4 separate regions of the Homo sapiens genome follow, and regions 1, 2 and 4 are each linked to region 3. The links come from fine-mapping of genetic effects on gene expression. A gene starts in region 3. Each other region holds a variant in brackets. All regions are shown on one strand. Distances are from middle to middle. Region 1 has its middle 10 kb from the start of SPIN2A. Region 2 has its middle 41 kb from the start of NLRP2B. Region 3 holds the start of FAAH2 (fatty acid amide hydrolase 2). Region 4 overlaps FAAH2 (fatty acid amide hydrolase 2).

The links. PIP is the estimated chance that this variant, and not a neighbour inherited with it, causes the effect.
Region 1: its variant is the best candidate, but not a certain one, in a credible set for the expression of FAAH2 in lung (TOPMed, PIP 0.71).
Region 2: its variant is the best candidate, but not a certain one, in a credible set for the expression of FAAH2 in stomach (GTEx, PIP 0.76).
Region 4: its variant is the best candidate, but not a certain one, in a credible set for the expression of FAAH2 in whole blood (TOPMed, PIP 0.68).

The regions. Positions count from the first base shown.
Region 1 is chrX:57,144,866-57,150,738 of GRCh38, forward strand. It overlaps a transcript of FAAH2 not described here and a transcript of SPIN2A not described here. Among named protein-coding and RNA genes, the nearest start is that of SPIN2A, 10 kb to the left of the region's middle. The variant C/G (reference allele first, on the strand shown) is at 3,180.
Region 2 is chrX:57,718,060-57,723,932 of GRCh38, forward strand. No RefSeq gene overlaps it. Among named protein-coding and RNA genes, the nearest start is that of NLRP2B, 41 kb to the left of the region's middle. The variant C/A (reference allele first, on the strand shown) is at 3,280.
Region 3 is chrX:57,283,984-57,289,856 of GRCh38, forward strand. It overlaps FAAH2 (fatty acid amide hydrolase 2), which reads left to right and starts at 2,723. Exons shown (of 11, transcript NM_174912.4): 1 at 2,723-3,034. The coding sequence starts at 2,843.
Region 4 is chrX:57,427,915-57,433,787 of GRCh38, forward strand. FAAH2 (fatty acid amide hydrolase 2) reads left to right here. Exons shown (of 11, transcript NM_174912.4): 8 at 4,004-4,123. Among named protein-coding and RNA genes, the nearest start is that of FAAH2, 140 kb to the left of the region's middle. The variant C/T (reference allele first, on the strand shown) is at 3,456.

The DNA of each region.
Region 1 (5,873 bases), 140 kb before region 3:
ACTGAGTAGTATTCCACTATATATATATATATATGTATGTATATGTATGTGTGTGCATACACACACACACACACACACACCACAATTTCTTTATCCACTCATTGATTGATGAACATTTGGGCTGGTTCCACATTTTTGCAATTGTGAATTGTGCTGCTATAAACATGCATGTGCAGATATCTTTTTTGTATAATGACTTTTTCTGTGGGTAGTGGGATTGCTGGATCAAATGTTAGTTCTACTTTTAGTTCCCTAAGGAATCTCCACACTGTTTTTTCTAGTGGTTGTACTAGTTTACATTCCCACCAGCAGTGTAGAAGTGTTCCCTTTTCACCACATCCATACCAGCATCTATTAGTTTTTGTTTTTTGATTATGATCATTCTTTTGGGGGGGGGTAAGGTGGTATTACATTGTGGTTTTGATTAACATTTCCCTGATCATTGGTGATGTTGATCATTTTTTATGTTTGTTGGCCATTTGTATATCTTCTTTTGAGAATTGTGTATTTATGTCCTTACCCCGCTTTTTGATGAGGTTATTTGTTTTTTCTTGCTAATTTGTTTGAGTTCCCAGGAGATTCCGGATATTAGTCCTCTGTTGGATGGATAGATTGTAAAGATTTTCTCCCAATCTGTGCATTGTCTGTTTACTCTGATGACTGTTCCTTTTGTTGTGCAGAAGCATTTTAGTTTAATTAAGTCCCACTTATTTATTTTTGTTTTAGTTGCATTCGCTTTTGGGTTCTTGGTCATGAAGTCTTTGCCTAAGCCAATGTCTAGAAGGATTTCTCCAATGTTGTCTTCTATAATTTTTACACTTTCAGGTCTTGGATTTAAGTCCTTGATACACCTTGACTTGATTTTTGTATAAAGTGAGAGATGAGGATCTAGTTTCATTCTCCTACATGTGGCTTGCCAATTATGCCAGCACCATTTGTTGAATAGGCTGTCCTTTTCCCACTTTATGTTTTTGTTTGCTTTGTTGAAGTTCAGTTGGCTGTAGGCATTTAGGTTTATTTCTGGGTTCTCTGTTCTGTTCCATTGGTCTATGTGCCTGTTTTTATACCAGTATCATGCTGTTTTGGTGACTATGGCCTTATAGTATAGTTTGAAGTTGGGTAATGTGATGCCTCCAAATTTTTTTTTTTCTTTTTTTGCTTAGTCCTCCTTTGGTTATGCAGGCTCTTTTTTTGGTTCCATATGAATTTTAGGGTTGTTTTTTCTAGTTCTGTGAAGAATGATGGTGTCATTTTGATGAGAATTGCATTACATTTGTAGGTTGCTTTTAACAGTATGGTCTTTTTCACAATATTGATTTTCCCCATCCATGAGGATGGGATGTATTTCCATTTGTTTGTGTTATCTGTGACTTTTTTCAGCAGTGTTTTGTAGTTTTCCTTGTAGAGGTCTTTCACCCTCTGAGTTATGTATATTTGTAAGTATTTTATTTACTTTGTGGCAATTGTGAAAGGGATTGAGTTCTTGATTTGATTCTCAGCTTGGTCACTGTTGGTGTATAGCAGAGCTACTGATTTGTGTACATTAATTTTGTATCCTGAAACTTTGCTGAATTCATTTATCAGTTCTTGGAGCTTTTTGAAAGTCTTTAGGGTTTTCTAGGTATCTGATCATATCATCAGCAAATAGTGGCAGTTTGACTTCCTCTTTACCAATATGGACAGCATTTATTTCTTTGTCTTGTCTGATTGCTCTTGCTAGGACTTCCAGTACTATGTTGAACAGAAGTGGTGAGAGTGGGCATCCTTGTCTTGTTCCAGTTCTCAGAGGAAATGCTTTCAACTTTTCTCCATTCAGTATAATGTTGGCTGTGTGTTTGCCATAGATGGCTTTTATTACATTCAGGTATGTCTCTTCTATGCTGATTTTGCTGAGGATTTCAATCATAAAGTGCTGCTGGCTTTTGTCAAATGCTTTTTCTTCATCTATTGAGACAATCAGGTGATTTTTGTATTTAATTCTGTTTATGGGGTGTATCACATTTATTGACTTGCTTATGCTAAACCATCCCTGATTCCCTAGTATGAAGCCCACTTGATCATGGTGGATTATGTTTTTGATATGCTGCTGGACTTGGTTAGCTAGCATTTTGTTAAGGATTTTTGTATCTATATTAGTCAGGGATATTGGTCTGTAGTTTCCTTTCTTGGTTATGTCTTTTCCCGGTTTTGGTGTTAGGGTGATACTCACTTCACAGAATGATTTAGGAAGGATTCTCTCTTTATCTTGTGGAATAGTGCCAATAGGATTTGTACCTATGTTCTTTCAATGTCTGATAGAATTCAGCTGTGAATTTGTCCCATCCTGAACTTTTTTTCTTGTTGGTAATTTTTAAATTGCCATTTCAATCTTGCTGCTTGTTATTGGTCTGTTCAGGGTTTCTAATTCTTCCTGATTTAAGCTACAAGATTTGTATCTTTTCAGGCATTTATTCATCTCCTCTAGGTTTTCTAGTTTATGCGCAAGTTCATAGCAGCCTTGAATGATCTTTTGTATTTCTGTGGTGTCGGTTGTAATATCCCCCATTTCATTTCTAATTGAGCTTATTTGGATATTCTCTCTTCTTTTCTGGGTTAATGTTGCCAGTGGTTTATCAATTTTATTTATCTTTTAAAAGAACCAGCTTTTTGTTTCATTTTTCTTTTGTAATGTTTTGTTTAATTCAATTACATTTCATTCCGCTCTGATCTTGGTTATTTCTTTTCTTCTGCTGTGTTTGGTTTTGGTTTGTTTTTGTTTCTCTAGTTCCTTGAGGTGTGACATTAGGAACATTGTCTATTTGTGCTCTTTCACACTTTTTGACGTAGGTTAACGCTATCAGCTTTCCTCTTAGCATCACTTTTGCTGTATCCCAGAAATTTATAGGTTCTTTCACTATTATCATTCAGTTCACAGAATATTTTAATTTTCATCTTGATTTCATTGTTTACCCAGTGATCATTCAGGAGCAGGTTATTTGATTTCCATGTATTTTCATGGTTTTGAAGATTTCTTTTGGAGTTGATTTCTAGTTTTATTCCACTCTAGTCTGAGAGAGTACTTGATGTAATTTCAATTTTTAAGAATTTGTTGAGACTTCTTTTTGGCCTATCATATAGCCTATTACATAGAATTTTCCACGTGCTGATGAATAGAATGTACATTCTGCAGCTGTTGGATA[C/G]AATGTTGTCAAAGATCAGATAGTTGTAGATATGCGGCATTATTTCTGGGGGCTCTGTTCTGTTTCATTGGTCTATATCTCTGTTTTGGTACCAGTACCATGCTGTTTTGGTTACTGTAGCCTTGTAGTATAGTTTGAAGTCAGGTAGCATGATGCCTCCGGCTTTGTTCTTTTGGCTTAGGATTGACTTGGTGATGCAGGCTCTTTTTTGGTTCCATATGAACTTTAAAGTAGTTTTTTCCAATTCTATGAAGAAAGTCATTGGTAGCTTGATGGGGATGGCATTGAATCTATAAATTACCTTGGGCATTAAGGCCATTTTCACGATATTGATTCTTCCTACCCATGAGCATGGAATGTTCTTCCATTTGTTTGTATCCTCTTTTATTTCATTGAGCAGTGGTTTGTAGTTCTCCTTGAAGAGGTCCTTCACATCCCTTGTAAGTTGGATTCCTAGGTATTTTATTCTCTTTGAAGCAATTGTGAATGGGAGTTCACTCATGATTTGGCTCTGTTTGTCTGTTATTGGTGTATAAGAATGCTTGTGATTTTTGTACATTGATTTTGTACCCTGAGACTTTGCTGAAGTTGCTTATCGGCTTAAGGAGATTTTGGGCTGAGACAATGGGATTTTCTAGATATACAGTGATGTGATCTGCAAACAGGGACAATTTGACTTCCTCTTTTCCTAAATGAATGCCCTTTATTTCCTTCTCCTGCCTCATTGTTCTGGCCAGAACTTCCAACACTAGTTGAATAGGAGTGGTGAGAGAGGGCATCCCTGTCTTGTGCCAGTTTTCAAAGGGAATGCTTCCAGTTTTTGCCCATTCAGTATGATACTGGCTGTGGGTTTGTCATAGATAGCTCTTATTATTTTGAGATATGTCCCGTCATACCTAATTTATTGAGAGTTTTTAGCATGAAGAGGTGTTGAATTTTGTCAAAGGCCTTTTCTGCATCTATTGAGATAATCATGTGGTTTTTGTCTTTGGTTCTGTTTATATGCTGGATTACATTTATTAATTTGCGTATGTTGACAGCCTTGCATCCCAGGGATGAAGCCCACTTGATCATGGTGGATAAGCTTTTTGATGTGCTGCTGGATTCGTTTTGCCAGTATTTTATTGAGGATTTTTGCATCAGTGTTCATCAAGGATATTGGTCTACAATTCTCTTTTTTGGTTGTGTCTCTGCCCGGCTTTGGTATCAGGATGATGCTGGCCTTATAAAATGAGTTAGGGAGGATTCCCTGTTTTTCTATTGATGGGAATAGTTTCAGAAGGAATGGTACCAGCTCCTTCTTGTACCCCTGGTAGAATTCGGCTGTGAATCCATCTGGTCCTGGACTTTTTTTGGTTGGTAAGCTATTGATTATTGCCACAATTTCAGAGCCTGTTATTGGTCTATTCAGAGATTCAACTTCTTCCTGGTTTAGTCTTGGGAGGGTGTATGTGTCGAGGAATTTATCCATTTCTTCTAGATTTTCCAGTTTATTTGCATAGAGGTGTTCATAGTATTCTCTGATGGTAGTTTGTATTTCTGTGGGATCGGTGGTGATATCCCCTTTGTCATTTTTTATTGCATCTATTTGATTCTTCTCTCTTTTCTTCTTTACTAGTCTTGCTAGCGGTCTATCAATTTTGTTGATCTTTTCAAAAAAACAGCTCCTGGATTCATTAATTTTTTGAAGGGATTTTTTTTTGTCTCTATTTGCTTCAGTTCTGCTCTGATTTTAGGTATTTCTTGCCTTCTGCCAGCTTTTGAATGTGTTTGCTCTTGCTTTTCTACTTCTTTTAATTGTGATATTAGGGTGTCAATTTTGGATCCTTCCTCCTTTCTCTTGTGGGCATTTAGTGCTATAAATTTCTCTCTACACACTGCTTTAAATGTGTCCCAGAGATTCTGGTGTGTTGTGTCTTTGTTCTCATTGGTTTCAAAGAACATCTTTATTTCTGCCTTCATTTTGTTATCTACACAGTAGTCATTCAGGAGCAGGTTGTTCAGTTTACATGTAGTTGAACGGTTTTGAGAGCGTTTCTTAATCCTGAGTTCTAGTTTGATTGCACTGTGGTCTCAGAGACAGTTTGTTATAATGTCTCTTATTTTGCATTTGCTGAGGATTGCTTTACTTCCAACTATGTGGTCAATTTTGGAACAGGTGTGATGTGGTGCTGAAAAGAATGTATATTCTGTTGATTTGGGGTGGAGAGTTCTGTAGGTGTCTATTAGGTGCACTTGGTGCACAGCTGAGTTGAATTCCTGGATATCCTTGTTAACTTTCTGTCTCATTGATCTGTCTAATGTTGACAGTGGGGTGTTAAAGTCTCCCATTATTATTGTGTGGGATTCTAAGTCTCTTTGTAGGTCACTAAGGACTTGCTTTATGAATCTGGGTGCTCCTGTATTGGGTGCATATGTATTTAGGATAGTTAGCTCTTCTTGTTGAATTGATCCCTTTTCTATTATGTAATGGTCTTCTTTGTCTCTTTTGATCTTTGTTGGTTTAAAGTCTGTTTTATCAGAGACTAGGATTGCAACCTCTGCCCTTTTTTGTTTTCCATTTGCTTGGTAGATCTTCCTCCATCCCTTTATTTTGAGCCTATGTGTATCTCTGCATGTGAGATGGGTTTCGTGAATACAGCACACTGATGGGTCTTGACTCTTTATCCAATTTGCTAGTCAGTGTCTTTTAAT
Region 2 (5,873 bases), 430 kb after region 3:
CTGAGAATGATGATTTCCAATTTCATCCATGTCCCCACAAAGGACATGAACTCATCATTTTTTAGGGCTGCAGTATTCCATGGTGTATATGTGCCACATTTTCTTAATCCAGTCTATCATTGTTGGACATTTGGGTTGCTTCCAAGTCTTTGCTATTGTGAATAATGCCACAATAAATGTAAGTGTGCACGTGTCTTTATAGCAGCATGATTTATAGTCCTTTGGGTATATACCCAGTAATGGGACGGCTGGGTTAGATGGTATTTCTAGTTCTAGATCCCTGAGGAATCGCCACACTGACTTCCACAATGGTTGAACTAGCTTACAGTACCACCAACAGTGAAAAAGTGTTCCTATTTCTCCGCATCCTCTCCAACACCTGTTGTTTCCTGACTGTTTAATGATTGCCATTCTAAGTGGTGTGAGATGGTATCTCATTGTGGTTTTGATTTGCATTTCTCTGATGGCCAGTGATGGTGAGCATTTTTTCATGTGTCTGTTGGCTGCATAAGTGTCTTCCTTTGAGGAGCGTCTGTTCATGTCCTTTGCCCACTTTTTGATGGGGTTGTTTGTTTTTTTCTTGTAAATTTGTTTGAGTTCATTGTAGATTCTGGATATTAGCCCTTTGTCAGATGAGTAAATTGCAAAAATTTTCTCCCATTTTGTAGGATGCCTGTTCACTCTGATGGTAGTTTCTTTTGCTGTGCAGAAGCTCTTTAGTTTAATTAGATCCCATTTGTCAATTTTGACTTTTGTTGCCATTGCTTTTGGTGTTGTAGACATGAAGTCCTTGCCCATGCCTATGTCCTGAATGGTAATGCCTAGGTTTTCTTCTAGGGTTTTTATGGTTTTAGGTCTAACGTTTAAGTCTTTAATCCATCTTGAATTGATTTTGGTATAAGGTGTAAGGAAGGGATCCAGTTTCAGCTTTCTACATATGGCTAGCCAGTTTTCCCAGCACCATTTATTAAATAGGGAATCCTTTCCCCATTGCTTGTTTTTGTCAGGTTTGTCAAAGATCAGATAGTTGTAGATATGCAGCGTCATTTCTGAGGGCTCTGTTCTGTTTCATTGATCTATATCTCTGTTTTGGTACCAGTACCATGCTGTTTTGGTTACTATAGCCTTGTAGTATAGTTTGAAGTCAGGTAGCATGATGCCTCCAGCTTTGTTCTTTTGGCTTAGGATTGACTTGGCAATGTGGGCTCTTTTTTGGTTCCATATGAACTTGAAAGTAGTTTTCTCCAATTCTGTGAAGAAAGTCATTGGTAGCTTGATGGGGATGGCATTGAATCTGTAAATTACCTTGGGCAGTATGGCCATTTTCACGTTATTGATTCTTCCTACCCACGAGCATGGAATGTTCTTCCATTTGTTTGTATTCTCTTTTATTTCCTTGTGCAGTGGTTTGTAGTTCTCCTTGAAGAGGTCCTTCACATCCCTTGTAAGTTGGATTCCTAGGTATTTTATTCTCTTTGAAGCAACTGTGAATGGGAGTTCACTCATGATTTGGCTCTCTGTTTGTCTTTTGTTGGTGTATAAGAATGCTTGTGATTTTTGTACATCGATTTTGTATCCTGAGACTTTGCTGAAGTTGCTTATCAGCTTAAGGAGATTTTGGGCTGAGACAATGGGGTTTTCTAGATATACAATCATGTCATCTGCAAACAGGGACAATTTGACTTCCTCTTAAATTTTTTTCTTACTTTTTTCTTTGACTTGTTGACCTTCAGGAACATGTTGTTTGATTTCTATATGTTTGTGTAGTTTCCAAAGTTTATTTATTTCTAATTTGATTCCATTGTGGTCAGAAAATATATATAATATAATTTCTACTTTTTCATATTTGTTCAACATGTTTGTGTCCTAACATAAGGTCTACTCTGGAGGATGCTCCATGTGCTGATAGGAATATGTATTCTGTAGCATTTAGTTGAAATATTCTGTAAATCTCAGCAAGGTTTTTTTTTTTTTTTTGTCTAGAATATAGTTTAACTGTGATTTTTTAAAATTTTCTGTCTAGATTATCTGTCCATTATTGAGAATGAGCTGTTGAAGACATCTACCATTGCTGTACTACAATCTATCTCTTCCTTTAGATATATTAACGTTTGCTCTACATACTTGGGTACTCTGGTGTTGAGTGCAAGGCCAATTAATATTACTGTATCTGCTTGCTAAATTTCCCTTTTTATTATTATATAATGGCCTTTTATCACTTTTCACAGCCTTTGACTTTTAGTATATTTTATCTTATGCAAGTAAAGCTCCTCCTGCTCTTTTTTGGTTTCCATTTGCATGAAATATCTTTCTTGATTCCTTTATTTTCAGTCTATGTATGTCTTTATAGGCAAGTTGGGATTCTTTAGGCAGCATACAGTTGAGTCTTTAGTATATCCTTTCAGCCACTTTATGCATTTTATTTATTTATTTATCCGACTTTTAATCTTAAGTTCAAGGGTATATGTGCAGGATGTGAAGGTTTGTTGCATAGTAAACATATGCCATGGTGGTTTGCTGCACAGATCATCCCATCACCCAAGTATTAAATCCAGCATCCATCAGCTATTTTTCTTGATACTCCCCTCCCTCCACTCTCCAGCCTCCGATGGGTCCCAGTGTGTATTTTTTCCCCCTTGTGTTCATGTGTTCTCAACATTCAGCTCTCACTTATAAGTGAGAACATGCAATATTTGGTTTTCTGTTTCTGCTTAGTTTCCTAAGGATAATGGCCTCAAGCTCTGTTCGTGTTACTGCAAAGCACATAAGCTCATTTTTTTCTATGGCTGCATAATATTCCATGGTAACAATCAGTGATGTTGAGCTTTGTTTTATATGTTTGTTGGCCACGTGAATTTTTTTGAGACGTATCTGTTTATGTTCTTTGTGCACTTTTTAATGGGGTTGTTTTATTTATTGTAAATTTAAGTTTCTTATAGATGCTAGATATTAGACATTTGTCAGATGCATAGATTGCAGAAATTTTCTCCTATTCTGTAGGTCTGCTTACTCTCTTGATAGTTTCTTTTGCTGTGCAGAAGCTCTTTAGTTTAATCATATCCCATTTGTCAATGTTTGCTTTTGATGAAATTGCTTTAGATACCTTTGCCATGAAATCTTTGCCCATGCCTATGTCCTGAATGGTATTGCCTCGGTTTTCTTCTAGGGTTTTTATAGTTCTGGGTTTTATATTTAAATCTTTAATCCATCTTGAGGCAGTTCTTGTTTTTTTTTTGTTTGTTTATTTTTATGTTTTTGTTTTTGAGACAGAGTCTCACT[C/A]TGTCGCCCAGGCTGGAGTGCAGTGGCATGATCTTGGCTCGCTGCAAGCTCCACCTTCCAGGTTCACACCATTCTCCTGCCTCAGCCTCCCAAATAGCTGGGACTACAGGCGCCCGCCACCACACCTGGCTATTTTTTTGTATTTTTAGTCGAGATGGGGTTTCACCATGATAGCCAGGATGGTCTCGATCTCCTGACCTCGTGATCCACCCCCCCTTGGCCTCCCAAAGTGTTGGGATTACAGGTGTGAGCCACCGTGCCAAGCCAGTTCTTGTATAAGTTTTAAGTAACGGGTCCTGTTTCAATTTTCTGCATATCGCTATACAGTTTTCCCAGCACCATTTATTAAATAGGGTATCCTTTCCTCATTGCTTGTTTTTATCAGATTTGTTGAAGATCAGATGTTTATAGGTATGCAGACTTAAATCTCAGTTCTCTATTCTGTTCCAGTGGTCTATTTATTTGTTCTTGTACCAGTGCCATGCTGTTTTGGTTATTGTAGCTGTTTAATATAGTTTGAAATCAGGTATCAACAAAGTGATGCCTCCAGCTTTGTTGTTTTTGTTTAGAATGGCAACTTAGGCTCTTTTTTTTCCCATATAAAATTTAAAATAGGTTTCGCTAATTCTGTGAAGAATGTCAATGGAAGTTTAAAGGGAATAGCACTGATTCTGTAAATGGGTAGTATGGCCATTGTAACAATATTGCATACTTTTATCCATGAATATGAAATGCTGTTCTATTTGTTTTTGTCATCCCTGATTCCATTCAGCAGTGGTTTGTAGTTCTCCTTGAAAAGGTCCTTCACTTCCCTTGTTAGCAGTATTTCTAGGTATTTTATTCTTATTGTGGCAATTGTGAATGGGACTTTATCTTCATTTGGCTCTTAGTTTGCCTGTTGTTGATGTATAGAAATGCTAGTGATTTTTGCATATTGATTTTGAATCCTGAGACTCTGCTGATGTTGCTTATCAGCTTAAGAAGCTTTTGGGCTGAGACAGTGGGGTTTCTAAATATAGGATTATGTCATCTGCAAACAAAGATTGTTTGACTTCCTCTCTTCCTACTTGGACACCCTTTATTTCTTTCTCTTGCCTCATTTCCCTGGCCAGAAATTTTACTACTATGTTGAATAGAAGTGGTTAGAGAGGGCAACTTTTTCGTGTGCCAGTTTTCAAGGAGAATGCTTCCAGCTTTTGTCCATTCAGTATGATATTGGCTGCGGGTTTGTTTTCTATAGATATTATTATTTAGAATTATGTTCCTTCAATACCTAGTTTATTAAAAGTTTTTAACCTAAAGGGCTGTTGAATTTTATCAAAGGTCTTTTCTGCATCTATTGAGATAATCATGTGGTTTTTGCCTTTTTTCTGTTTATGTGATGAATCATATGTATTGATTTGTGGATATTGAACCAACCTTGCATCCCAGGGGTGAAGCCTACTTGATCATGGTAGATAAATTTTTTGATGTGCTTCTGAATTAGGTTTGCCTGTATTTTTTTTGATAATTTTTGCATTGATGTTAATAAAGGATATTGGCCTGAAATTTTTTTTTGTTGTATCTCTGCTAGGTTTTAGTATCAGGATAACGCTGGCCTCATAGAATGAGTTAGGGAGGAGTAACTCCTTTTCAATTTTTTGAAATAGTTTCAGTAGAAATGGTACTAGCTCTTCTTTGCATCTCTGGTGGAATTCAGCTTTGAATCTGTCTAGTCCTTGGCTTTATTTGGTTTGCAGGGTATTTATTACTGACAATTTCAGAACCATTTTTGGTCTACTCAGGGATTCATTTTCTTCCTGGTTCAGTCTTGGGAGAGTGTATGTATCCAGGAATTTATTCATTTATTTTAGATTTTCTGGTTTATGTGCATAAAGTTGTTTATAGTATTCTCTGATGGTTGTTTGTATTTTTGTTGTGTCAGTTGTAATATATCCCTTATTATTTCTGATTTTGTTTACTTGAATCTTCTCTCCTTTTCTGTATTATCTTAAAAATCACTGAGTTTTCTTAAAATGGCTATTTTTGAATTCTTAGAGCTCACAAATTGTCATCTCATTAGGGTCAGTCACTGGTTTCTTGCTTTATCCATTTGGGGAAGTCATGATTCTCTGTTTGCTGTTGTTTGTTTGAATATACATCTATGCCTTTGCATTGGAAAATTATTTATTCCAATCTTCTGCTTGTCTTGTTTTGTTTTTTGGTATGTTTGCTTAAAAGTTCTTTGTAATAAACCTGTTGAATGTATTTTTCTTCCACTTGGTCGGTGCCACCTCTTTTGCCCAAGACGGCACCTTAAATCTCAGGTTTGCTTCAGCTCTAGCAAACTTTGAAGTGTTGCCTGTCTCAGGTGGGGCATCTCCCAAAATAGCCAAGATACAGGGCAGAGTTTCCTGGTCTGGGAATATTAGTCCTTCTCCAACATCACCCCCTGCTTTGTCTCTGGCTGTCATCAGAATTTTATCTTCCTTCATGCCCTCATGCTGCTTCCCATGGTTTGAATAGGAGCAGGTCTTTTTTTTTCTTTTTAGGAAATCCAAAATGTTGGGAAAGTTGGTGTTCACTTTGATCTCACTTTTTTCAGTGTATTGACC
Region 3 (5,873 bases):
CCTTTAAGGTGACTGCGCTGTGCTGTGGGTTCGCGTCAGTCCCCAACTTCTATACTACCTCCAGAGCCTGATGAGAACATGAGCGTGGAAAAACGTCAGCTTGCCTGCTCCCTCTGGGAGCTCTGTCCCAGGGAAGTGTGGAGCTGCTTCCAGCCTGAGAACTCAGGCAGGGCTGGGGTAGCCTTGTTAGTGTCCCAAGCTAATGGGCCTTATCCTGCGGCGTGCCCGGGAAGAAAGCCTGCAATCTGGGCATGGTGGTGGGTGCTTATAATACCAGCTACTTGGAAGGCTGAGGCAGGAGAATCACTTGAACCCGGGAGGCAAAGGTTGCAATGAGCCAAGATGGTGCCACTGCACTCCAGTGGCGCTCCAGCCTGGGCGACAGAATGAGACACCATATCATAACAAAACAAAACAACAACAACAACAACAACAACAACAAAACCTGGAATATTATTCAGCTTTTAAAAAGCAGGAAATTTAACATTTATTTTAAAGATAAATCTTAATGGTCTTATGATAAGTGTAATAAGTCCATCATAAAAAGTATGAATCCACTTATACGAGTTAGCTAAAGTAGTTGCACTTTTAAAAAGAGAAAATAGAATGGCATTTGTAAAGGGCCAGTCAATGGGGAAAACAGGTAGTCGATTCATGTATAGTATGTATTCATTTTGCAAGATAAAAATGTTCTGGTGATATGTTGCCAACAATGGCAATATACTTAACATGGTCTAACTATTAATATAAAATTAAAATATTTAAGATTGTAAAAAAAAAACAGAAGCTTTACATCCATATGTGATTTAATCTTCATAACACCATATGGCAGCTGTTATTCTACTTTACAGATGAGAAAACACACCTAGGGACATTAAGTGATTTGTTCAAGGTCAAAAACATAATGAGTGCTGGATCTAGGATTTGGATTCAGGTCTGTCTGGTCAGAGCCCAATCAGTGAGCATTCTTTGTACCTCAGGCTCACATATTTGTCATTTACAACTTAAATAAAGTAACAAAAGTTGGGCAAAGTAAATATTTTCATTTTGACAAAACCTTTCTCTGGTAAGGAAGTTTCACTCAGCTAACAGGTTTTGCTCAGAACTGTAATGGAGCCTAGATTATGACAACCTGCTTTATCAGCTTTCTTTACTGGATCTGCTAGATGTGCCTGTCATGATTAACCTGCTTTCTACCAGGTGCTTGAATTAGGCTAGAAGTGCTGTGATGACACTTTCAGTATCAACCTAAGTTCTGCAGGTGAAAAGACAGTGACCTGGATGACGTTGTCATTTCACCTACCCAAGACCTTAAATGCCAAGCTCGAATCCCTATCTTCAACGCTCATTATCTCATAATCACATACCTTCAGCCTACAAACCTGTATTGACTTCTCATCAAGCCCTATGTCAGGCTCTGGCAATACAAAGAGGAATTAGAATGACCCTGTTCTTCGAGGAGTTTATATCTAGATGGGGCATAGACACAAAAACCTAACACATAACAGAGGGTTGTAAGTGCTATGATTTTGTTAATCTGTGGAGTGCAGGGTTACAAAAGAGTGGCATCACACCCAGTTGTAAGTTCAGGGAAGACTTACTGGAGGAGGTGGTACTTGTCCTGAACTAGATGAAGAGGTTGGGAAAGCAGATGCAAAGATAAGGAGGGAAGAGAGAACTTTCGGATAGTTGTTTGTCAGGAGCTTAGCATGTGAGGGATAGAAGGGGTTAGGGATGAAGCATAGAGTTTTTCAGACACCAGTCATGAGAGTCGAATGCTGGACAAAGTAGATGGGTCTTGAATCTGTGGAAAATGGAGAATTATTGCGGAGTTATTGGCAGGGGTGTAATATTGTCAGATTTACATATTAGAAAGAACACTCTATAAATAAAGGCAGAGTGATCAGCTAGATTATTTGTAGAAGTTCATGTAAACCTCAGTGAGATCTGAGCCAGACTGAGTTGAGAAGGAAGGGCTGGATTCTGTCATGAGAATAAGAGAAATGGAAGAATCTGAAGTGATTCTAGATTTTTGGCATGGCTGACTGGGTGGATGAAAATTCCATTTGTAGACCTGTAGGGGCAGCAGTCTGGGGGACAAAAGGATGAGTTTTGGACTTGTTGAGTTTGAACGATCTGGAAGACATTCACATGGATATGTCAAAAAAGGCATTTCAAGTGTCCAGTTTAGGAGACAGATGGGCTGGAGATTTGATGTTCATCAGTACTACCTGTTAGTGATCTTATAAGGATTAAATAATATGCATATGGAAAATATATATATACTTGCCATTTAGTTGTTTGTTGAGCATACTGAATATTTGCATACAAAGGTATACTTACAACACTTTTTTCACAAGCACAGCTGAAATAAACTATAACAACTACCACTTATACTATTTACCATAAATTGTGCTAAATGTTTTTACTTATTATCTAGTGTTTATGGTAACCCTTTGATATAGGAGTAGTTATTCCCATTTTTTTTCTTATGAGTAAACTGACTAGGAGATATAGTGTAGGTTGGCCAGGGCTACACAGTAGCAGAACTGGGGAATTCCAAGGCCAGTGTTCTTTCTTATGACGCATTTTCTGTCTTGGGTTACAACAGCACTAACGACAGGTAGCATTGCACACAGGCAGCTGCTGGGAAGTCTCCGCCCCCATCTCTGGCTAGGAGCCCTGCAGGTGATGATAAACAAGCTCCTGTGGAATTGTGGGTAGACACTGGACTTGTAAACGAAAAGCTTCATAAGTCCCTCTTTGCTTAGTACTTTTCTCGTCCTTTCCCCAGGGTGCACGTAACCCTCAAGCACTAGGACCGTGCGGAATCCAGGCTGCGATGGCACCTTCATTTACCGCCCGCATTCAGTTGTTCCTCTTGCGGGCGCTAGGCTTTCTCATAGGCTTAGTAGGCCGAGCAGCTTTAGTCTTAGGGGGTCCAAAGTTTGCCTCAAAGACCCCTCGGCCGGTGACTGAACCATTGCTTCTGCTTTCGGGGATGCAGCTGGCCAAGCTGATCCGACAGAGAAAGGTGAGAATGCAATTCAGAAGAGGCTGGAGGGACAGGTCTTTTAGCAGGATCCAGGAAGCTTAGTGGTGGCGGTGGTTGTGGTTTCCTTTCCATTCTCTACTAGGGCGACTTAGGAGAGGCATTTATTGGGGATGAAGGGAGACTTCTGGGTGTTGTAGTACGTTTATTTTTACCAAGGACATTTACTGTGGGCATGGGTTGGACTATTTTGGTACCGTCATAGTCCTTCCTATCCATTTGTCCTATTTGTGCATAATTACTGTGTGTGGGGTAAAGCAGGTGTGAATTTCAAACTGATTCTCAGCTATGGAAAGTCAGTCTCTCTCTTTCTCTCTCCCTCTCCCTTTCTCTCTCTCTATTCTTCCGTCTCTCACAGGCCCCAGATCAACCTGCTGCTTACCATTCAACCAATTCTTTTTAAAATTGATTTAAAGTAAAAGTAGTACTTGGTCTAGGATAGTAAAAGCTGCGTCTACCATATATTTATTGCATAGTATATGTGAAATACTCTGCCTGGGTACTTAAACATATTCTATTTCACGGATGCAGTTATATAGGCAATATTCATATTTTATGCATAAGGAAACTGAAGTAAAATGATTTGCACAAAAATTGTTGAAAGTTCTAAATTAAAAAAATTAAGCAGCTCATTCGTTCTCTATAGAATTGTGCAGGCAGGACTATTCATCTCTGTCATATAAGTGATTGGTTACCTGGAGATCTTGAGCTACAGTCTAGTATTGTTTATTTATACTCTGCTTGTTTTCACCTCTCTGCTGTTTCATTTGTTTTTCGTCATTGCTTTATTTCCAGAATCTACAATACTACTTAACAAAGAATAGGCATGCAGCAAATACTATCTCAGTATGTGCTCCTGAATGTATGAATTATTAATATTTGTATTGTACTCCTGGTTACCTTTCAAAGACATATCCTGTCTTCTTGCCGTACCCCCTCCCCAGCCTCTACCCACTCATGCATGCTTTTCTACCAGTTAGGGAGGCAATGGGATGTATTCGGTTGGTGCAAAAGTAATTGTGATTTTGTAATTGAGATTTTGACATTACTTTTAATGGCAAAAATCACAATTACTTTTGCACCAACCTAATAGTAGAAAGATGATATATTTCAAATTTTGGACTGTCTGTTCATGGCTCTGTGACCTTGTGCCACACCAATAGCAGATAATACATATCAAGAACCTGGCACATAGAAGATTGTGTAACATAATGATTAGAAGGATGGACTCTAGAGTCAGACTCCCTGGGTTCAGAAATCCTAGCTTTTCTACGATCTAGCTCTGTGATCTTAAAAACATTTCTTTTTTTTTTTTTTTTTTTTTTTTTTTTTGAGACGGAGTCTCGCTCTGTCGCCTGGGCTGGAGTGCAGTGGTGCGATCTTCGCTCACTGCAAGCTCCGCCTCCCGGGTTGACGCCATTCTCCTGCCTCAGCCTCCCGAGTAGCTGGGACTACAGGCGCCCGCCACCATGCCCGGCTAATATTTCGTATTTTTTAGTAGAGACGGGTTTTCATCGAGTTAGCCAGGATGGTCTTGATCTCCGGACCTCGTGATCCACCCACCTCGGCCTCCCAAAGTGCTGGAATTACAGGTGTGAGCCACTGCGCCCGGCCTTAAAAGCATTTCTTAACTTTTTGTGTCTCTGATGTCCTTTAAGAAAAATGGATTTGATAATAGAATCTACCTTTTAGAGTTATTGTGATGAATTAAATGAATTCATATATGTAAAACTTATAGAATATTGTCTGGCATACTAATCCTATATAAATGTTAACTATTACTATTATTACTATCATCAAGTTTTTGGTAACTAGCCATTTTTTATTCATGCTTGCCCATGAGATGAGATGATCTAGATATAGTTTATCTAGATTTATAAAAATGTTCTGAAGGGGAGAAGTGGAGTGGATACAAAGTTTTATTTATCCCTTAGTTTCTGACATTTTTAAACATGGAAATATTGTTACTGCAAAACAACTAAATTTCTTAAACACCTACCATGTGCCACTTGATAAGGCAAACATTTTACTTAGATTTTTGTAAATTGAATCTTCATAATGACATTTTGAGGTACATATGATTATCATCATCTTACAGAGAAGGAAAATAAAGTTTAGAGCTTTCTAATAGCTTGTCCAATGCCACACAGCTAGAAAGTGGTAGAGCCAGGTAAATCTTACTCAATTTTTGTTGGCACTTTATGGAAGAGTATGCTTCTTGATAACGAGCTCTGATTGAACAGTCAGTTTCCTGTGAGTCAGTGTCTACTGTCTTTTGCTTGCTTTTGTGTCCCTATGATTACTCTTCTATTATTCAGAATTCAGGCTACCACTATGTCTTCTGAACCTCCACAGCCTCAGTTGGTATCCAAGGTTGGGCCTTGCCAAAAATACATCAACTTATGGCCACCATCATACATAGCCTGGTCATTTGGATATTTGATTTTGTTGATGATCCGAAAGTCAATGAGGTTTTGAAACCGTAAGTCCCACCCTTTATTCATCTCCTTTGTTAGGAGACAAGGGTGGAAAGAGGCTTCATTGCATGATCTTTTTTACTTTCAGATTTTTGAAACGTGTGCTCATGTTACCTATTTATAATAAATATAATCAATACTTTAGAAAATTAGAAAAAAGTATTTTCAGTTTTTAGATAAGTAATAAAAAATAAGTATGAAGTTGATCTAAAGGAACAGATACGTAAATAGTTCTGAATTATGTTACGTGGTAAAAATATAAGGTACTGAACAATGAATATAATATGATTCCTTTTGTGTGAAGAAGGGAGAGAGAGCTGAAGAGAGGGGAGAAGGGAATAAGG
Region 4 (5,873 bases), 140 kb after region 3:
AAGAGAAAGAAATAAAAGCCCTCTGAATTTAAAAAGAAGTCAAATTATTTCTGTTTGCTGATAATATGACCTTATACATAGAAAACTTTAAAGACTCTACCCCAAAGACTCCTAGATTTGATAAATGAATTCAGTAAAGTTTCAGGATACAAAATCTATGTACAAAAATTACTATTTACCAGTAATAATCAAGCTTAGAACCAAATCAAGTTGTCAGTTTGTTAGCATTTACAATAGCTGTAAAAATAAAATATCTGGAATGCATTTAACCAAGGAAGTGAAAAATACCTACAAGGAAAACTATCAAACACTGATTAAAGGAATTTGAGATGACAAAAATAAATTGAAAAAATCTTATGCTCTTGAATAAGAGGAATGAATATCATTAAAATGTCTATATTATCTAAAGCAATCTACAGATTCATTTCAATTCTCATCAAAATACCAATGTAATTTTGCACAGAATTAGAAAAAAATCACCAAATTCATATGGAACCACAAAAGAGCTTGCATAGCCAAAACAATCCTATGCAAAAGGAACTAAGTCGGATGCATCACATTACCTAATTTCAAATTATATTACAAAGCCATAGAAACTACAACAGCATGGTATTGGTATAAAAATAGACACATAGATCAAAAGAATAGAAGAGAGAACCCAGAAATTAAGCCACATAACTACAGCCAACTGGTCTTCGATAAAGTCAACAAAAGATAGGCTGTGAAAACAACATCCTATTCAAAAAGGGTTCTTGGAAAATTAGGTGGCCATACACAGAAGAATAAATATGGACCTGTATCTCTCACCATATGCAAAAATTATCACAAATGTATTAAAGGCTTAAGTGTAAGACCAAAACTATAAAAATACAGGAAGAAAACAGGGAAAACTATTCTGAACATCATTTTTGGCAAAGACATCATGACAAAGACCTTAAAAACAAATGCACAATACCAAAAATAGACAAATGGGACTTAAACTAAAGTGCTTCTTTACAACAAAAGAAATTATCAACAAAATAAACAGACAACGTGCAGAATGGAATAAACTATTTACAAACAATACATCCAATAAAATATTAATAACTAGGTTCCACAAAGAACTCAGACATCTCAACAACAACAAATAATTCTGCCAAGGCCAGGTGCAGTGGCTCACGCCTGTAATCCCAGCACTTTGGGAGGCCGAGGTGGGCGGATCACGAGGTCAGGAGATCGAGACCACCGTGGCCAACACGGTGAAACCCCATCTCTACTAAAAATACAAAAAAAAAATTAGCTGGGCGTGGTGGCGGGTGCCTGTAGTCCCAGCTACTTGGGAGGCTGAGGCAGGAGAATGGCGTGAACCTGGGAGGTGGAGCTTGCAGTGAGCCCAGATGACGCCACTACACTCCAGCCTGGGCCATAGAGTGAGATTCCATCTCAAAAAAAAAAAAAAAAAATTCTGCTAAAATGTAGGCAAATGGCATAAACAGACTTTTTCAAAAGAAGACATACAAATGGCCAACAAACACATAAAAAACTGCTTAACATTATTAATCAATGAAATGCAAATTAAAATTTCGATTAGCTATTGTATTACACCACAGTAGCTATTACTAAGAAGTCAAAAAATAACAGATATTGGCAAGTATGGAGAAAAAAGGAAGCACTCATAAGCTTTAGTAGAAATATTAATGAATATAACTTGTAATTAATACAATACATAGGGTTCTCAAAGAATTAAAAATAGAACTACCATTCTATGCAATAATTCCACTACTGGTTATCTACCAAAGGGAAATAAATTTTATACAAAAGGATATCTACACTCATGTGTTTATACCAGCATTATTCACAATAGAAAAGATATAGAATCAACTAAACTGTCAATCAATGGATTATCGGATAAAGAAAATGTGGTGTATATATACAATGGATTGTATTCAGCCATTAAAAAAGAGAATAAAGTCATTTTTTTTTTTCCAGCAACATCAATGGAACTGGAGGCCATTGTCTTAAGTGAATGGTTTGGAAACAGAAAGGCAAATACCACATATTTTCACTTATAAGTGAGAGCTAAATAATGTATAGAACTGGACATAAGGAGTAAAATAATAGACACTGGAGACTCAAAAGGATGGGAGGGATCAGAGGGGGTGAAGGATGAACAATTACTTAGCGGATACAATGTACATTATTAGGTTGATGGCTACACTGAAACCCCAGACTTCACCATTATGCAATATATCCATGTAACAAAACTACTTTCTCCTAAATTATAAATATTAAAACAAAAACAAAAACACCTCTATTGTTCACCTGACCTCCATAAGCCACTATTCTGATTGTAGACTATAGTGTCATTTTAGGTCTCCTGGCATTAGTATCAGTTCAGGACCTGTGTCCAATATTCTCCAAAACTTCTGATTATTTTTCCCTAATTCTTCCATGCCATAATTTATTTTGGGGAAAGCTGTGAGAAAGATTGACATTATATGTTGTTGGGCGTGTGGTGGGATGCTTCTTCCAGGGGACCCATTCTTCCCTTCATTCAAGGGTTGTGAGTCTGTAAACTGGCTCAAGCCTGGGAATTGATTGAAGGGCCATGACTCTGTTTTATGTTACAAGCTAGAATTTTGTTCAATTGACCTAGGACTCCTCTGCTTATACAGATTTAGTAAGAATATAATGGAATTATTATCTGTCTCACTACTAGAAACATGATTAACTAACAATGTCATAGGTCTGCATCAGTCAGATTATTCTGATTGCTGCTTTGACTCTTCTGCTTATGTAGTTTTTGTCAGTTAAGTGCTGCCACTTTTCCCCTGCCACTTGGGAATCCAATTATTTCTATTAAATTTATTTTTTTTAGTTTAATGGTATCAATCCATGTAATTTCTGACCTACAGAGAAAAGTGATCTTCAAAGACGATAGGGTTCCCACAAAAATTTATTTCTCGTAATTGTGGCTAAGAATTGTTCTCAGTACTCTCCCAAGGTCGGGGAGAAGATCTTAAATGATAAATGTCGCTAAGAATTTGGATTCTTTCCTCTACAGTATGTCAAGGCAGGACTGGAATTTCAACTTCATTTAGTGTAGGACACCTTTTGGTCTATGTGTTTCTAAACTTTTTTTAGAGTATTTTCTGACACACTGAGCTGCAACACTAAATCGAGACTCTCTCCTTCTTGGGCTCATATCAATACATTTGGCCTGTTTCAGGTTTGTGTTTCTTCCACAATTATCCATACTTTTAATATCCATTGTCATACGTATTCCCTGGATTTATGTCTATATAAATTAGAAAAATAAACATGACCTGACAAGACTTGAGTCTAGTTATAGGTCTAGAAGCAAAGAAGGGTGGTATGGTGGGTCCTAACAATGATCAGCAGTGTCTTACTTCTGCTTCTTCTCAGAGCTTAAGTTGTATTTTATTTCGCTGCATGTAATCTCTTGCTCACAGGTA[C/T]CCAGATATCTGCAGTAACCCAGCAATCCATTTGTGCAATAGCTTCCACCACTGCTCTAAGCATTTTCCAGCCTACAGTCTAAACTATGCTATCATTCCAGTTAGTATTCCAAGTCAGAAAAGACACAACAGTCCCTCAGACTGTCCCCAGAGAAGCTAGAACTTTACAAGCAAGTTCCATTCATATTCTTTCATTCCAATGGAGGAACCAATAATTTGATGGATTCTTTCAGACACTCAGTGCTGTGTTAGAGAGGGAGTGGGACAAGGGCAAGCAGAAATGACATGAAATTTTCTAGCATTTCCTTGGTTGCTTCAGCTTCTTAGCTTGTTTCAAGAGTTCTCACAAAACTACTTTGCTCTATATATTTTGGGGTGTTTTGTTTTGTTTTTGTTTTTTTGTTTTTTTGTTTTTTTGTTTTTTTTGGTGTTTCCATGGGGCAATGAGGGCCTGGCGCTTTCTGCTCTGCCATCTTGCTGATGTCACTCTTCAGTAGTATCTCCTCTTCTCATCATGTTTGTCTGTTTTTATATCTTTCTTTTATAAGGTTGTGGTTCACCTTGAAACTATTCTAGGAGCCTCAGTTCAACATGTTAAACTGAAGAAAATGAAGTACTCTTTTCAGTTGTGGATCGCAATGATGTCAGCAAAGGGACATGATGGGAAGGTATTTTTACCTCTTTCTTTACTTACTTTTTTCTTTGTGTAAACATTTATTGAGCTTCTATTGTGGTCCATATGTTAGAGGTGTAGAGAAAAGAAACTCATGAAAAAAATAAGTAAAATAGTAAAATATTTAAAGAAAGCACAGTTTGGTGAATGCCTATACGGAATAGGCATATATGCTATTCACAGAGAGTGTGCCCATTCCTATATGGAAATCAGTGAAGGCTTCTTGATGGAGGAATTGCAGTCTCCCAAATCTTGAATGATTTGGAAACCTTAACCAGGTAGAGAAGAGATAAAGATTATGCCAGGCAGAGGGGAAACCACGGCAAGAACAAGGACACAGGGGAATGAAGCTAATCTTAGTATGTTGTATGCTAGGTACTCAGAACATGTAGGTTTCAATAAAGCCTTAAGTGATTAGGTAACTTCAGTTGTCAAGTTCCACCTTTACCTTCCCCCTGAGATGTTTTAAAAATACATGTACAGAGCTATCTGCCCATCTCCTGTTTATTTTTCCCTTCCTTTTCATATCTGCTATGATTAGAAGCTGATACAGGTACTTGTGAAAGAAGCTTCCCTTATGCCAGGTTTTTTCAGGCTTGCTGAAGACTTTTAATATGAACACTTTGAGAACTATAAGATAAATTCAACATTCTGGAGAATTTAACTTTTGTGAATATAGGAATGTTTTCTGCCAATGGGAATATTTGTGTTAGAGCATGACACATCCAAATTTGAAGTGCAGGCTACCTCCTAGTTTTGTTATCTTGGGCAAGTTACTTAGCTATTCTGCAGTTTACTCATACGTAAAATTAAGCTATTGATACCCATTTTACAGCTTTATTTTGTGGATTAACAATATTTTTTATAAGATATCTCACATACAATAGCCCTTCCATAAGGCAGAACTCACACGACCCTCTCTACCTTAAAAAAAAAAAAAGTCACTTTTAAAATTTTTTCAAATACCCAGTTTTCTTTGCAGAAACACTTTGGAAATCTCTCAGAACAAAACGTTTATACAAATTCACAAGGGGAGGAGGTTTGGCTCTGAGATGAAAGTTTATAATCAGAACTTTAGATCAAAACTAAAGCTGAAATCAAAAACAAAAAGTTTATTTTCAGTTCACTTCCAGAAGACACTGTCTTATAATTTGGATAAACTGTTAACATACATGCTGACTGTCAAAACTGGTCCTGTAATTACAAATCTGGAAAGAAAAAGAGGGGGGAAAAATCTGCTCTCCTCTTACTTTTTTATGATACCAGATTTAGAGCTGGGATTATGATGCCAGATTTAGAGCTGGTGGTCATAACCACTTTACCATGTTGCTCATTAATAATCACTTAAAATAGGTAGAAAAGGGATGTGGCCATTTTCTAACCCATACTTTTTATGTTAATGTAGCTCTTTTTTAATTACAAACCTAATTTAAAATTTTTAAATTTTGTGACTACATAATAGTTGTATGTATTTATGGGATATATAAGATGTTATGACACATACATACAATGTGTAGTTATGAAATCTGTAACTGAAGTATCCAACAGTTTAAACATTTATTATTTCTTTGTGGTGTAACTTTCCAATTCCACTCTCTTGTTTTATAATATACAACAAAGTACTTTAAACTATAGTCACCCAATTGTGCTATCAAACACTAGACCTTATTTCTTCTCTTTTTATACTCAATAATCATCCCCACTTCTCTTGCAGTTTCTTGTGCATTTGCACTATAACATTTATT